Linked DNA regions of Homo sapiens: region 2 is linked to region 1. The links come from fine-mapping of genetic effects on gene expression. Tissue or cell type: lung. Region 1 holds a variant in brackets; the other region holds the start of a gene. All regions are shown on one strand. Distances are from middle to middle.

Region 1 (8,105 bases):
GGAAGATGAAAGGGTCCTGGGGCACATGGACCAGCCAAAGCACAGCCAGGAGACAGGCCTAGGTGGAGCCAGAGATGTCGAGCCTGGAGGAGAGTGGGCCCAGCAGCTTTGTGCCTGGAAGATTGTTATCTGGAAGGAGGTCTCAGCCTGTCCTGCGAGACCCAAGGGCAGCACCAGGACCAACAGGAGACAGCTGGACAGATGGATCCCACCTAGACTAAGCTTCATATCCTGAAGGCAGAAAAGGGCTTCTCCTTTAGCCCATGGAGTGTTCTAGCATCTTCTATGTTCAAGGCTAGGGGATCACTCCTTAAGGGTGCTGACCAAGTCATGATTCTGGAAGAAACTCATAGCCACGAGTCATCAACAGCCTCAGGTTGTGGGATGGCACTGTGCCACTACTGGGGCTGGTCACAGCTCCGGCTCTGCTCATCTGTGACCTCAGGCAACACACTCAGCCTCCTACCCCAAAATAAAGGGTCTTCCCTGAGGATGCCGAGGGCCCTCTCAGCCTCTGTGATGTTTTTGCCTACCTGCTTTCCCTCCCAGGTCCTCATTCCCACGACCCGATGCAACTCCCACAAGGAGAACATCCAGGGCCAGCTCAAGGTTCGCACACCCGGCATCTACATGCTCATCTTCGACAATACCTTCTCAAGGTAGGGCCACCTCAGGCACCAGCTCCACGTCTCCAGGCCTCTCTTTCACCTCTTCTAAAGAGCAGAGGTGGACACTCAAAACCAATTATTTGTCAGTAACTTATTATTAATTGTTCTTTGATTGTTGACCCCTCTCCTGTGGTGTTCCAGTGTTCTTTAGAGATTTTGTGACACACAGGCTCATGCTTGCAGAGTCTTACCATGTCACTGCTGAGGGGTAGAGGAGTGACACTCCTAAGTCACAGAGCCAGTGGTGGAGCTGGATCTGAACCAGGCGGTCTGGCCAGTCTGAACTCTTCATAACCAAGGTGCCCTTTCCCTCTCTCTGATATTGATTCCCACTGCTCTGCCACTGCCCTGCCCAAAGAAGGGGCTTAGGAAATACAATGGAAAGACTGAATGAATGAATGAACGAGAAAGGGAGAAATAAAAGAAGGAAGGGCAGAGCTTGAGATAAGCAAGCCCAAAACTGCACCACAAAGCCCCTGGCCATGTGGCGGGAGCGACAGGTGCCATCTCTGGGAAGCACTCTGAGAACCAGCTAAGGTTCAGGAGTGTATAGGTTGGGAGATGGGGGAGAAGCTGGACAAGAGAATGAGAATGGAGGGAGATGAGGCCAGAGGGATAGCAGGAGGGGAGTGGAGACAGGACCAGCATTGACTGAGTATCTGCCAATCATTTGGAGAGGGGCTGGGCACCTGCCCCTGTTTATGTCTTCTGCTTCAGCACAGACCCCTTAACTGGAACCAGCTCTTTAGAGAGAACTGCCTGATCTGTTTCTGGCCACATCCTCTCTGAGCAAGGTCCTGGGCTACCGGTCACATCCCCAGCATGGGTACTTGGCTCTTAGCAGAATAACTAGACAGGACACTAGGGAAAACCTGAGTCATCCCCTCACCACCTCCAGGCCTTGAACTGCCAGGGCTTGTGGCCAAGAGTGCCCACCAGAGGAGGGGTTGGAAGATGAACTTCCCACCTCACCCCCTCCTGCCCCTCCGTACACTCCCAAGTGGAAATGAAAGCACCCCTGGAGTTAGCAGGACCTCATGGCATAGACCTATCATGGCCAGAGAGCTCTCTTTGGAGCCACCCTCTACCCCAAGAGTGGACATGAGCCCCAGCCCCTCTTGAACAGGATAGGGCAGTGGTTAGGAGAATGGGTTGGGGACCACCAGGCCCAAGCTCTGCTCTTCCCCCAGCGGCCCTTAGTTGAGTCTCCATTTCCTACTCTGCAGTGGCAACCACACTGTGGATTGATGGAGAGACCAAGGAGAGATGTGATGAGGGCAGAGCACCGTCCCAAGCCCGAGCAGGCTCCCAGTTATCCCTAGAGGTGGCCATGGTGCTGTGACAAACTCTGGCCTTGGCCCATCGAGGTCATCTCAGGGGCCTACTTGAGATTTCCAAACTATGGATATCAGAACTGAGTTAGCTGCCGAGTAGGAAAAAATCCGTGCTGGCCTCCACCATATGCCTCCTCCCATTGCCTGCTCCTCACACCACCATACACACACTGTGCAGTCCCCACCACCAGCTGCTTCAGAGCAGCCAGGTGAGGGAGGTGATATTCACAGCCTGTGATCAAAAGGGCATTTCTGCACCCAAGCCTCAGGAGAGTCCACAGTGATGTCCCGAAACCCTCTGACCCTCCCAGGGAGAGAACTCCACTAGACAGACAGGAAATGGGGCATGGGGCTCCAGCACCCACACCCAGCCAGGTCACTGCAGTGACCACAGAGGCCTCAGCAGCAGCTGCCACCCCTCGGACTTTCAGCTCTCAGGTAACACCCTCCCTTTCCATTTCTGTTTCCTCAGGTTTGTCTCTAAAAAGGTATTTTATCACTTGACGGTTGATCGGCCTGTGATCTACGATGGAAGTGATTTCCTGTAGCTTCAGCACCTCAGTAACTTCACTTCATCCACAGGAAACACTGCTCTTCCTCACCTGTCACATAAAGCATTTTTTTAAAAAGTCAGCTGCTCCAAAATCATCAACTCAGCCCCTGGGCTGCCCCTCAGAGGCGGTGTCTGGGGAGGACTTTGTGCTCAGCACTCTGCACCGGCCACTCTTAGCCCCCGAGGCGTTGAAGGGCTCAGGCAATGTTTCCATTAAGTAGAGACTCAGCTGTTGTCACACCCAAAGGGATGCTCTGCCAAAGGTTTAAACACCCAGGAGACCATCAGCCTCTCCTGGGAGCACAGTTGGCTACAGGCCTCTTGTGGAGAGTTTCACGGGCAGGGGTGATTCCAACTTCTGCCTGTGGAGAGATTTTCTGCCCTGCCCCACCAGGGCCCTGCATGTTGGAGACTGAGCTGGGTGCACTGGCCATGCCCTGTGAATCCTCAGGCTGTGACGCCCTCAGGTACTCCTGGGAAAAGGAGGTACACAGCCATC[A/G]TGCGAGTCGGTGCCAGGGGACCCCCCGGAGATCCTGACCAGCTCCTCCAGTCATGCTCTTGTCCCTCACTGCCCCAGTAAGCTGGAGGCTGCTCCAGAACTCAGCAGTGTTGGAGGGGCCTCTAAGCTGCACTCTCTTTCTGGCCCTTTTGTCTGGGTGATTCTGTCCTCAAATAAAGCCCTTCACTCAGCCAGACCTCTCCACAGCTCAAAGCATTGCCCTAAGAATCAGAAGTAAAGATAATCCAAGAGCAAAACCCACTGTACTTGGGGCCTGCAATGGCTGTGTGTACACTACATCTAATGCCCAAATGCCAGCCAGTGTGGATGTTGTGACCACAGAGCAGGATTGTGCATTGGCTTTAGAGCTACTCCTCAGCTGATGGCCCACTTTTGTTTATATAAATAAGAGCTTCTGCCCCACCTGCAGACATGTTTACTAATGATCATAGCCAGGATTAGAACCACTTTCAAACATTGGGGCCTTCTTAACAAAAGTCTTTGATAACTTAAGAACCAAAGTAACAGAGTAAACAGAGGCATGATGGATCCCTGGGCCCCACTCCCCTCCTGACAGGTTCCCCAACAGCCCATTTGCCCACTTCCCACTGCTCAGCCCACACCAGACCTCCAGGAGACATCCCCCCTTGAGGCAGAGAGATCCTGTTCCCTATTCCCAGACAAGAATTATTTAATCTTCCCTGTTCTCTGTGGTCCTTTTCTTCCCCAACAACAGATAGCTCACCTTGGACAGCTCTTCGTCCCTTGTTCATGGAACCAGCTGCCTGCAGTCAGGCCCCAGGTTCTTCCATGGGTGAACAGAGCATCTGACAAAAGGTCCCAGTTTGGCCAGGGGTGAGGGAGAGAGCACCAGACAGGCTATCCGAGAATCTGAGAGCTGGGCCCGGCAGTTCCTCCAGCTACCCTTGTGACCTAAGTCCAGTCACACATTTCCCAAAGTTTCTCTTTGTCATAACCCTGGTCTGGCTGGTTTTGAGGGCTTGAGAATGGGTCAGGGACTCCAGGCCAAGTCCAACAGAGACCCCAAACCCACCACACACCAGCAGCCACAACCTCACCACCAACAAAGAGGACTTTTGTGGGGCCACAAGTAAGAGGTCATTTCTGGAATGGACTCAGACCTTTAAACAGGAGAGTTGAGCACTTCCAGTCAGTTTTTAAGCAAGGCATGGGGAACAGGGAATAGAACCTTTCAAAGAGGTTGCCCAGAGAAAAGCTGGGCCTCTTGCATTCGGCTTCCTTGGAGCAGCCTCTTCTGGCAGAAAGCCATCAGGTGCTCAATCATCTTCTCCTGGCCAAGGCTCTGACCATGCTTAGTACTGGAATAGAGGTGGCCAGGCCCCCAGCGACTCTTCTTGGCCTGATGTTTGTCCTCACAGGCATGCCACGTGGCCTGAGATGATTCAGAACAAATCATGCTAACTTTGAATCCATCCAGCCACTTGCAAATGATAATCAGAAGTCAGCTTGTTCACTGTTAGAAAGAAACTAACAAAAGAGAACCCAGAGCAATCTAGAATCTTTGAGTGCTTGGCTTTCCAAGGATACTGCGGAGACTCTGGCCAAGCTGATGACCTTCTGAAGTGTCACTGGCACCATATGCAACAAGAACCACCATTCACTGAGTAGCTAATGGGTTTGGGGCCTGGGACATTCCATCTGAGGTCCTTCCTGAACATGTCACTCCACAGCAGAGGACCGGTTGCAGCTTACCCAGAACCACTCCTCCAGGAGAGCTGGATGTTTTGCGTGCAACACCTTGAGCACTGACTGCTATTGTTCAAAAAAAGCCTTTGCTGCATTCGGAGGACTGCCCCGTGCCCTGAGGTGACTTCCTAACTATGTGGTTTCATTAGCGAATTTATTTTTTGTGCTGGGTGGACATTTGTATTTTGTTAGGTTGCTGTTTAAGCTCAAGTTTGCTGTGCTCTCTGCAGCTACAAAACATCTTGGCATATTTAAGAGTGGCTTTTATAAATAGCTTTATTCTGATATTAATCAGATTCCCAACTTTACTGAGAATTAAGGACTGGGGTACTTTAAAGAAATGCAAATAGCAATTGAAGAACCACTGCTGCAGGTGGTAGCCCTGGCTAGACTGAATTACACTAGAAATCAGCCAGAAGGAAGCGTCCTTGGGATCCCAGATCACTCTTTTTTTTTTTTTTTAAAAGGGGCAGCCCCTTGATGGCTCATCTCTCTGAATAACAGTTACGTCTTCATATCGATACCAGATGCCTTCTTCATCATGCCACTGAAGCCACTCACCACCTTCAAGAACATGCCAACCTCTGTCAGATTCACTTACCCACAAACAAGGAGGCACGTTTGGCACAAAGTGTTGTCCTCCAGGTCCAAGTGGACTCTACAGAGTGCTTGACCTCAACACACTGGATTCCAGGTGGACTGGACCAAGAGCAGGCAAAGACACGGGAACTGAAAAACTCCACAGGGTTTGGAGAATAGAAATGAAAAGCCACGTCATATAACTCAAGAATAAATGGTGTTTTGGAAATTTTAAAATTATCATCGAAGGTGGTGAAACTATTTCAGGCCCAAATGAAAGGAAATCGCCAGTTGGGGATGAAATCACAGAGCCTGTGTTTTATGATATGGTTGGATGTCCACTGATGAAATTTTAAAGGAGTTTCAGTTTTAAAAGTGCGCATGATTCTACATATGAGAATTCTTTAGGCCAAGAAACTGTCCTTGGCTCAGAGGTGTTGGGAATTAAAGCAGAGAGAAGCCATTCGTGATGCTTAGAACCAAGGATGGTCATGTACACAAAGACCATCGAGACGGCCATTCTTGTTTACAAAACACTTACCAAGAAAGCACTTTGTAGGGGAACTTTAGTAAGTTCTTCTCATTTCATTATGTTTCTTCCAAGGAAACAGGAGAGACTGAATTAATAATTCTCTCTTTCCTCTTAAGCACTTTTAAAATAATAAAGTACATCTTGAAATTTGGGGAGGCATCTCTGATTTAAAAAAAGAAAAAGGCTGCTTGATGTATGTTATGCAGAGACACTCTGCCTCTGGTGGCTGCAGAGCAATACCCAAGCCTCATTTGGAAGGCTCAACATTTGGAATTGCACTTTAATTGATTAATCCTCAATTCATGTGGCCTTACGGGATGGTGGGTCTGGGACCCCAATTCATTCTTATCTGCCAAAGAATTATCTAGAAGCACATCAAATACCAGCACCCCACCTGCTCAATGGGGGTGGAAAACTTTTGTATCCCTAAGCATATTATTTTATAGTGTCTGCCATGCCATGTGGAAATACTTTATTTTTAACCTCAGGATTTAAATAAAGTAAACACTATGACATTTAGACATTTGTCTCTCATTTTTTTGGGACATAAAGTGCACCACGAAGTTATACAGAGCTGAGTTGGGGTTGAGCTGTGCTGCTGGGAAATAGAGCATCTTTTATGGTGGCTTTTCAGGAGGACTTGAGCCAGCAGATGTTCTGGGAAGTTTCCAGGTGGCCTGGCACCTGGCTGCTTCCTGGCCTGCTGTGAGGGTGGTGTTTAGACCTGCCTGAGACAGCCTGTCTTTCAATCCATGCTGTTGTGCCCTATGGGCTTCTAGCCTCAGCTCAAATGTCCAGATCTCCCAGGGCACCCACAGAGCATGTTGAGCAAAGAGCAGACTTCTGAGTTTACCGGAACAATGGGGCTGGGGAGAAGCATCATGGATGGCCTAAAACCATGATTGGTCAATATGAGGTACAAAGCTGGGCAAGACTGCCAGGCTGAGATGGCTGGCAGAGGAAGAAGTCAGCCCTCCCATTCCCGCATACCTTTCTCTGGCTGGGTCAGCAAAGAGCCTGGACAGAGGCCCAGAGGGGCATGCCCTGGTCACTGCTGGATGTTGGACTGAGCTCAGGCTGGGCAGCCCACCCACACTCACCTCACACCCCCACTCCAGGGATGACCAGGGCTCTGTCCCTGCAGTGCTCTGCACCTCAAAAGAACACCTCCCCACACCACCCCTTCACCGCCCTTCCTCCGCCAGCCCTCTCCTGCTGCCAGACTTTCGTTTGGCCTCTTCTTTAATCTGTTACTCCATGGAAGAAGTCACATTTTCTGTAACTCTGGTTCTCTCCCAAGGATAAAAGACAGTGAATCCTTCATCTTTATCTTCATCTCCCTCCTCCCTTCTCTCCCCACCGCAGCATCGAGCAACATGCCAGGCAGGAAGGGACTCAAAAAATACTGAATTGACCTCTCGGGTCAGTCCCAGTGCCCTGGGTCGCCAAAAAGTCATCAGCATTCCCACTGGCGACTAACTCTGCCAGGAATAGAGGCTCCTGAAACACTCCGGTGGCAGAGGAGGGAAAGGGTGGGCCTGCAGGAGGAGATACAGGCAATGATAGCTGGTCACTCAGTCCCACCCCCTGCACCCCCTCTTATGTCAAAGATGCCCTTGGGCTGGGCGCAGTGGCTCACGCCTGTAATCCCAACACTTTGGGAGTCCAAGGCAGGAGGATTGCTTGAGCCCAGGGGTTCAAGACCACCTGGGCAACACAGTGAGACCCCGTCTCTACATTTTTTTTTCTTTAATTAGCCAGGTGTGGTAGTGCATGTCTATAGTCCCAACTCAGTAGAGGCTGCAGTGAGCCAAGATCATGCCACTCCACGAGTGACAGAGTGAGGCCCTGTCTCAAAAAAATAAAAAGGTACCCTCAGATCAAGTATCTATCTAGTAACCAGATTGCAGTAATGGCAGATAGTTACTCCACCTGCCCCAAATGACAGAGCCAGAGAGTTTCTTTGTTAATACAACAGTCCTTCCTGAGGCTTGGGGGCCTCATGGGCTGGGGGCTAGAACAAGAAACAGTTGAGACATACATATATGTGTGTGCTGTGCATCTGGGGCTGGGATCTGGGGACCTCCAGGTCAAAATCCTCCATTCCACCTCACCCCACCCTGCTAAACTGCAGAATAACTCAAGATGACCCAAGTCTTTGCTGGAGGGTTTCCAAGCCCCACGCTTGATTCCAGGTAATCCGGGCCCAGTT
Region 2 (8,105 bases), 75 kb before region 1:
CCCGAACAGTAACTATAATGTATTGAGAAAATGGGACACCACTGGGAGTGAACAGAGGTGCTGTGAATATTCATGCTGGGATAACAGGGCTCTCTTGGCTGAACCAGGAAGTATAGTCCCCTTATTCTGTGGGAAATGCTATTTTCTATTATTATCACTTAAAATGGAAAAAGTCTAAATCTGTATTATCAAGAGCTTATTTTAAAATTTCAAAAGTTTTCAGTTGATGAAGGGTTGAGGAGAAAAGTCAATAGTAGAGTTATGGAGAAAAAATTCTGGAAAATATACATGTCAGAATTCAAACCAAATTCCGGAGCCCTGAGGTCCACATCCTTCTGCATTGTCTATGAATCATTACTGAAAAGCTGTGTTCTGTAGGGGAAGATAGCTCAACCAGCTTAGAGCTGTTGATTCTGCAGTCAACTTCTGATTCCTTCCGTGGGTCTTACACTCGAATTTTCCAGCAGAGAGATTAATTGACCAGTGACTATCAAGAGGAGGCTGACTCTTTTGAGCTGCCACCCCATGCCATTGGCATGGCTGGCATCCACTTCTGGCCTGACCAGCAGGGGCCACAATGGTAGGGTCCTTGGCAGAGCACATGGCTGCCCCATGGAAGGAGCTGCCATCACAGTGGTTAAAGGCTTAAACTCTAATTGGACAGACCTGAGCTCAAAATTTGTCTCTGCCACTATAAGGTTTGGGCTTTAGGCAAATTAGCTAACTTCTCTAAGGCTGTTTGCTTATCTGCTTAATGTGGATAATTATGTATCATGAGACTGATATAAGGATAAAACTAAACCAGGTGTGGAATACACATAACATGGCACCTGGCACATAAAAAGCCCTTAACAATCATTCCAAGAGCCTCATCCCTCCTCAGGGCCGTGGGCACGGTCAGCTTCCCGTGAGGAATAGTCTCCTCTTCTGCCACTTGTTAAGGCTGTAAGGAGAGGGTGTGGGGATTTGGTGATTTTGAATCTGATCTCTTAATGTGTATTCACATCAGAACACAAGAATATGCTGCGTTTGTTTGTATGTTTGTTTGAAAGATTATAGTTTGAAATACTCTGCTGTATCTATAAAGGAAATCCAAGTTAAACTACCTGAACAGTAGTGATTTTGTTAACCTTCCCTGTATCTGACAGTGTGCTGGGTGACAGAAGACCCCTCAGGAGCCCCCAGCTCTACCCCAGCCTCCACCACTCTCCACCACTTATTAGGTGGGTGGACCAGGACAGTCATTTAACCTCTCTGAGCTTCATCTCCTCATCTTCAAAGTATGATAATGAATACTAATTATGTCACCAAGTGGCTGCAAGTTTTAAATATAATGCTGAATGGGTTTTTGTTGTTGTTTTTTGTTTTTTTGCTGGGGGGCTAGGGACTGGCATATAGGTCCTCAATAAATATTAGGTTTGTTTTCCTTTTCTTTTCAAACTCCTTTTGGGTTTAAGTTTCTGTGGTATTATGATGTCTGTCTATCTGTCTGTCTATCTATCTATCTATCTATCTATCTATCTATCTATCTATCTATCTATCTTGGTTTTCTTCCATGGTTCCTGGCTCATAACTCCCATAGCCCTTGTTACAGTCTTTTGTTATGTTAGGTATGTTAGGCTTCAGGAAACCGAATCTCTCTGGCCTTCTGCCCTCCTTTCACCTGCTTTAAGGCAGGACTCTAATCTTCCCCCGCCTTTCTTTCTTTTTTTTTTTCTTTAAGATGGAGTTTTGCTCTTGTTGCCCAGGCTGGAGTGCAATGGCTCGATCTTGGCTCACCGCAACCTCCGCCTCCCGGGTTCAAGCGATTCTCCTGCCTCAGCCTCCCTAGAAGCTGGGATTATAGGCATGTGCCACCACGCCCGGCTAATTTTGTATTTTTAATAGAGATGGGGTTTCTCCATGTTGGTCAGGCTGGTCTCAAACTCCCGACCTCAGGTGATCCGCCCACCTCGGCCTCCCAAGGCGTGAGCTGGGATTACAGGCGTGAGCCACCGTGCCCAGCCGCTTCCCCCGCCTTTCTGATTATAGGTCTTAAGACCCTCCCAAGAGAGGGTCCTCCCCTATACCCTGGGGGAAGCAATGCTGACATCACGAAGCTTCCATAAAAGCCCAAGAGGACTGGATTCGGGGAGCTTCGGGATAGCTGAACACGTGGAGGTTACTGAAGAGTGGTGCATCCAGGGAAGGCATGGAAGCCCCACGCCCCTTCCTCCACACCTCATCCTACGTGTCTCTTTATCTGCATCCATTGCAGTATCCTTTATAATAGACCAGTAAATGTGTTTCTCTGAGTTCTATGAACCACTTTAGCAAATTAGCTGAACCCAAAGAGGGTGTCGTGGGAACTCAACTTGAAGCCAGTCATTCCAAAATTCTGGAGGCCTAGACTTACAACTGGTGTTTAAAGGTGAGGAGGCAGTCTTGGGGACTGAGCCCTCCACTTGTGGGATCTGATACTCCAGGTAGATAGTGTCGGAATTGAATTGGAGGACACCCAGGTGCGGTCCACTGCTCAGTGTGTGGGGAAAACCCCACACACATCTGGTCACCAAATTATTCTCCTGTGTTGATGATTGCTGTTGTGTAAGAGTAGAGGAAAAATACGGTTTGAGGGAGGTTTTTTTTTCCCCACACAGTTTCAAACAAGGATATTGGACCAGATGACCAACATTAAAATCTCTCTCATCCTTAATATTGCATGAAGCTGTTCAGACAGTGGTTGGAGCAATGATTTCTCTTAGACCACTACATTGATTACTTTTCTCTTTGTCATCTTCTCACTCCCCCCGTTTTCTTTCTGTTCTCCTTTCTGTTAACAAGAGTGGAAATCACTTCTATTCATGTACCTCCTCCCAACCCCACCCCCAAACTGACTACTCCATCCATCCAACTCACTGTTTTAGCTACATCTAATTTATAAAATTAGATGGCTAATGAGATGTCATAGCCTAAAATCGACTAAGAAATTGATTTTCTTTCTGTATTATTGTACCCAGACAACACCCTGCTTCCTCAGTTTAGAATGTTGGGCCACCACGGTTCCTGACTGGATACCACGAGCTAGGTCCTACAAGGGAGAGAGCTGTTTCTGGCTTAAATGATGAGAACTAGGGCAGAGAGTAAAGGATAGCCAGCCACAGCTAAGGAATGCAGTCAGTTAGAAGCCAAAGTCCCCGTGTAGTGTTCCTCTTTTCTACTGTGCCCATAGCGGACACTGATTGAATGCATTTTGTTCTATCGTATTCAGTTCCACAGTGCTTTGCAACACCCATCTTATAAATAGAAGTTGGGCTGAGGATGGGGCCAAAGTTAGGGGTGGTAGTTCATAAACACGTAGTTTTTGAGCACTAATTTTAAGTAAGACCCTGATATTAAGAAATAAGGGGGATTAAAAGATGGGAAATTAGGCCCACCAATACATGTTTTTCTATTTCCCAATATATCAAAATATTATCATTTTAACATGCAATCACTAAAAATTAATGAGCTAGTTAACATTCTTCGGACTCTTTGGTACCTAGGTGTATTTCACACTTACAGCACGTGCACGATTCAACTCGAACTAGCTACCTTTGGAGTGCTCCTTAGCCACACAAGAACAGCGTTGTTGTCAAGATGCCAGACCTTTGATTTGTGGCCCTCCGGGGTTGCAGGCGTTAACCTGGGGCCAGCATGGGTCGCGGGTGGGACAGTCGGTCCGGGGACTGGGCGGTGGGAGCACTTAAACCCCGCCCTGCGGAGTCGCCGGGAGTTGTAGTCGGAGCCCCGGGAGTCCGATGGGAGTTGCAGGCCTCAGCCCCGGGGAGCACGCCGGGAGTTGTAGTCCGCCCCCGCCACCCTCTTGGTGTGCGCGTCATGGCCGTCAGCACCGCGTTCCCGTCCTCTTCCGCTTGGCCCCAGAAAGTTTCGGTTCTGCCCGGCGGTGGACCCACGAGCGCGTAAGTGCCGCGGAAGACCGGCTGGACTCTGGGGGCACCTGGGTCGCTCACGATCCCTGAGGCGAGAGCTTCGCTCGGGGCGCGGCTTGTCACCTGTTGCCCTTACAGTCCCCGCCCATCCCAGGTCTCCCTCAGACCCTGCCCGAGCGCCCCCGTCCTTGCCCAGCGGGCCGGGAAGCACCTCGGGCAGGTGGAAGCCGGCCCAGGCACCCAGCCTGCCTCTGTTGGTCGGTTAGAAAGACAGACCCCAAACACCAGTTCCAAGACCCCGGAGGGCGGAGGGCCCGCAAAGGAAAGGAGCCCACCATGCGGCGTCTCAGAACAAGCCTGAATGTCTTAGCGCAGGATGGGGCAGGCCCCGGAGTTCCTGCCTGCGTGGTCTTTAGGAAGTTTAGTCTCTGGCCCAGTTGGGCCGGGACAGCCCAGACCTTCACTTTGCAAGACTCCGCTGGTGCTCGGATCTCTGCCCTCTTCCCAGGAGGGGAAGAAGCTTCTTTCTTCCTGGCCCATCCTTTGGCCAAGACCTATTCACTATCCACTGCCCCTTGTGCCCATGCGCAGGGTCTCGAGCTAGCCCCCAGGGGTCTTTTCCCGAAACACCTGTTGTCTCTGGTGTGGCGGCACTGCACTGGACTGGAGTCCGTGCTGTTGAAACCTGGCGGGGGTGGGGCGGGGAGGGGGGAGGATGGCGGGATTTTATTTTTTGTAAGAAAAGCACATGTGGTTGACACGTTAACCGCGTGGCCCCCTGTTAAAGCACATGTATTCTCTGATGTCCCTGTCACTCTTCACTGTTCCCATTGGGTGTCCTCTCCAGAAAAAAAAATAGAACACTTGTTGAAACTGCCTGTGTTGGCCAGAGCCTCTCAGCCCCTCTGCTTGTCTTACCACAGCAGTTTCCTTTCCCGACAGAGAAATGGGTCAGGGGCTTTTGCGGGGCAGAGGATCCAGGGCTTAATCTGCTCACTGGTTCTCCTGCCCGTGCAGGCCTTGTGGTCTCAGGCTGCAAGCTTAATTCCCCTGCCATCTGCCTAATGCGGCTGGAGGGTGTTGGGGGCTGGTGTGGGGGAGGGGTGGGGAGCTGGAGCTATCATGCCAAGGTTTTCTGCTTTCAGTAGTTCCCACCTTCTGAAGTGGACCCCTGTTGAGTGAGCTCCACTTGACCCTCCCTTCTGTGACAACCACTGTTCTGAAAGCATTGAATGCCCCATACTAGTTGTGCACCGTGGTTATTATCACCCTGAAAATAAGAGCTAATTGTCACAGTGATGGATCTCAGCCTCCTTTGATTAATAGGATCTCTCCTAAAGGCTCTTGCTTTAGGAAATAGAGTTTATCTGTTTATGTTCAAAGTGACTATCTTTGTGTAGCACTTCATTTACTTTTTAAATTGTTTTTAATATTTTATTAGAAAAATAAACATACAGAATCACTGAAAGGATTGTATGGTGAATATCCGTATACTCAATTCTTAATATTTTACTTTGATTTTTTTTTTTTTTTGCAGTTACTTTAGAGATTGGTAACAGTCTCAGGCAGTGATCCTTTAGCTGTTGTTCCGATGACCTTTGCCCCTTGGGGCTGGGTTTGGAGCACCAGTATAATTTCAGGAGCCAAGTTTTTAACCTGGTCCTTTTTGAGGGGGATGGCCCCCATAGATGTTTGTGATGAGAGGAATCACCCATAACAGAGCAAGATCAGAGCAGCTGGTAGCTTTGACCCATATTGGTCACCAAGGCTATGGACTGCTGACTCAAGAATACAAAGTAGGTACGCAAGAAATGGCAGCCCCCTCACCCCCACCCACCCTGCTTCCCTTTAGGGGAGATGTTTAGCTGATAGGTAACTTTTGTTTACTGAAGATTCCAAAGACACAGCTTTGGTGACTCAAGACTAGAATGTCTTTAAACATGAGGCAGAGGAAGTGTGTTGTCTAGCTGTGGTCTTATGGTGGAAATCACTGGTAGGCACCTAGATTTAGGAACCACGTTCACTGCAAGCAGCCCTAGGCAGCAGGTAAGGGTCATTAACTGGTGCCTGTGATTACAGAGGCAACTTGTGAGCACAGATGAGTCCATTATGGTCAGGGCAACATCTGCTCACGTCATGACTGCTATGTTCTTGTCTTAGTCAAAAGATAAACAGTATTTTGTTTGTGAGCTCAATGCCAGTTTCAAGAAAATAAGAAGTCTTTATTGGTATAAGAGCCTCTATCTGAGCAATTAAATAAATCAATAGGGTGGGAATTGGAATGTTTCTGTGGTTCTACCTATGGAAATGCTGTTTACCTTCTTGCTGTTCGTTGATACATCACAAAAATGGCTGAAATGTCTGTACTACCCCCATAATAAGAGCCATTGCCTTGGAGCAAATGGGCCCCATGGCTTTGAGAAGAGGATGATGGCAGAAGCTGTGCTCAGTTAGGCAAGAGCAGTTTTATCCCTTTTCTCACATGGGAGCCAGTCAACCTGTTGATTTTAGTAACTTCCAGTGGTCCTTCCTGTTCACTTGGATCTCTGTGGCATTTGAAAGGCACCAAGGGCCTGTTTCTCATTAGGCCGGATGCCATTTGGAGGATGTGTACATCAGTGTGGTTCTGATGAAAGACTTAAGGAGAATCTGTGGTTTGGGTATAGTATTGTGGCCCTGTGGCTGGGACCCAAGGGCTGATCTGGCCAACTACCTCAGGAATCTAGAGTACTATACCCTAGGCCAGTCCCAGGAACCCGAGTTAGGGGAAGTCCTTAGCATACAAAAGAAAAGCTTGGACCAAAAAAAGCATTCCAAGAAAACCATTAGCATGCAGGGGGCAAGGCCAAGAGAAGAATCCCTATGTGAAGTCCAGGATAGGGCTGGATAGCTGAATCAGAAACAGTGGTTTAAAATGGAGCTGGAAGGAATTTCCTGAAGTTGACTCTGCAGCCCCAGATGCTTTTTCCAGGGTATCTGTAGACTTGGTCAGGAGCAGGGAGGGGACACTTAGAAGCCTCAGCCACTGAGAATGTCTGTTACCCCCCCTTTCCCACCTCCTTCAAGGGTTGCAATTCTTAATTAATTCACATGAAGGAAGTTTACCTCTCAACATTGCATCTGAAAAAAGAAAGGTAGGAAGAGGTCAAATGACTTCCCCAGGACAGATAGAGTGCCTAAAAATAGTTGAGTAAGCTAAATATACCTTGGGTCTCACCCAACCATGGCATGATCTTTGTTGCATAATACATAATGGAAAGTTCACGTAACTAGTCTGATTCCAAAATCTAAATAGGGTCCCATTTGACAAAACTTGGCTACCACTGGTAAGAGAGAAGAAAATATCTTGCTCATTGCTCCAACTCCAGCTTCAGAGCCATCCTGGGTCCTGCTTGCCCCTCCCATCTGCAGCATGGCCCCACCTTCTGCCTCTCTGCACCTACGCTGGCACTGCTGTTGTCATGCTCCTCCCCAAGAAGTGCAACAGAACCCAGGCCCACCAGCACCTCCCCTCCCCAGGTTGCCTTGTTGATGGTGTCACATGCACACTTTCAGGAATGGAGAGACAAGGGCCTTGGGAGGTGTATTTGTGCTAGGGCTGCCATAACAAAATACCACAAACTGAGTGGCTTAAGCAGCAGAAATGTACTTTCTTACAGTTCTGGAGGCTGTAAGTCCCAGATCAAGCCATTGGCAGGTTTGGCTTCTCCTGAGGCCTCTCTCCTTGGCTCTCAGACAGCCGCCTTCTTGCTGTGGCCTCACACGGCTTTTCCTCTGTGCTCCGCATCCCTGGTATCTCTTGTGTGTGTCCAGAATTCCCCTTATAAACTCACCAGTTCCAATTGGATTTGGGCCCACTCTCATGGCCTCATTTAATCTTCATTACCTCTTTAAAGGCCCTGTCTTCAAATGCAGTCACATTCTGAGGTATGAGGGTTAGGGCTTCAACATCGAAATGCGGTGGGGTGGTGTGCACAATTCACCCCCTGACAGGAGGTTTGGGTTAGCAGGGTTGTTTGTGAGGGTGGCGGTGCTTTTCATTTTCCAGGATGGGGTGAAGGAGGCTGTGGGTAAGGCTTCCTCGGGAACCGAACTGTGGTTCACACTTCCTCCTGTCCACACCAAACCCAGCGAGACTGGAGCAGCTGGCCAAAGGAAGGTGTAGGGAGCATGAGCTGGGCAGGGCATGGCCTT

What was found. PIP is the estimated chance that this variant, and not a neighbour inherited with it, causes the effect.
Region 2: FYCO1 starts here. The variant in region 1 is fine-mapped to the expression of FYCO1 in lung (TOPMed, PIP above 0.99). The same link has a PIP of 0.9 or more in sun-exposed skin, thyroid, tibial nerve and whole blood.

The regions. Positions count from the first base shown.
Region 1 is chr3:45,916,210-45,924,314 of GRCh38, reverse strand. It overlaps FYCO1 (FYVE and coiled-coil domain autophagy adaptor 1), which reads left to right. Exons shown (of 18, transcript NM_024513.4): 17 at 550-659; 18 at 2,475-6,412. The coding sequence ends at 2,550. Among named protein-coding and RNA genes, the nearest start is that of CXCR6, 23 kb to the left of the region's middle. RefSeq lists an enhancer at 7,847-8,105. The variant A/G (reference allele first, on the strand shown) is at 3,055.
Region 2 is chr3:45,991,558-45,999,662 of GRCh38, reverse strand. It overlaps FYCO1 (FYVE and coiled-coil domain autophagy adaptor 1), which reads left to right and starts at 3,839. Exons shown (of 18, transcript NM_024513.4): 1 at 3,839-3,941. LOC105377063 (a long non-coding RNA gene) reads right to left here and starts at 3,760. Exons shown (of 3, transcript XR_940799.3): 1 at 3,574-3,760. RefSeq lists enhancers at 3,811-3,970, 3,991-4,040, 3,541-4,040, 6,086-6,586.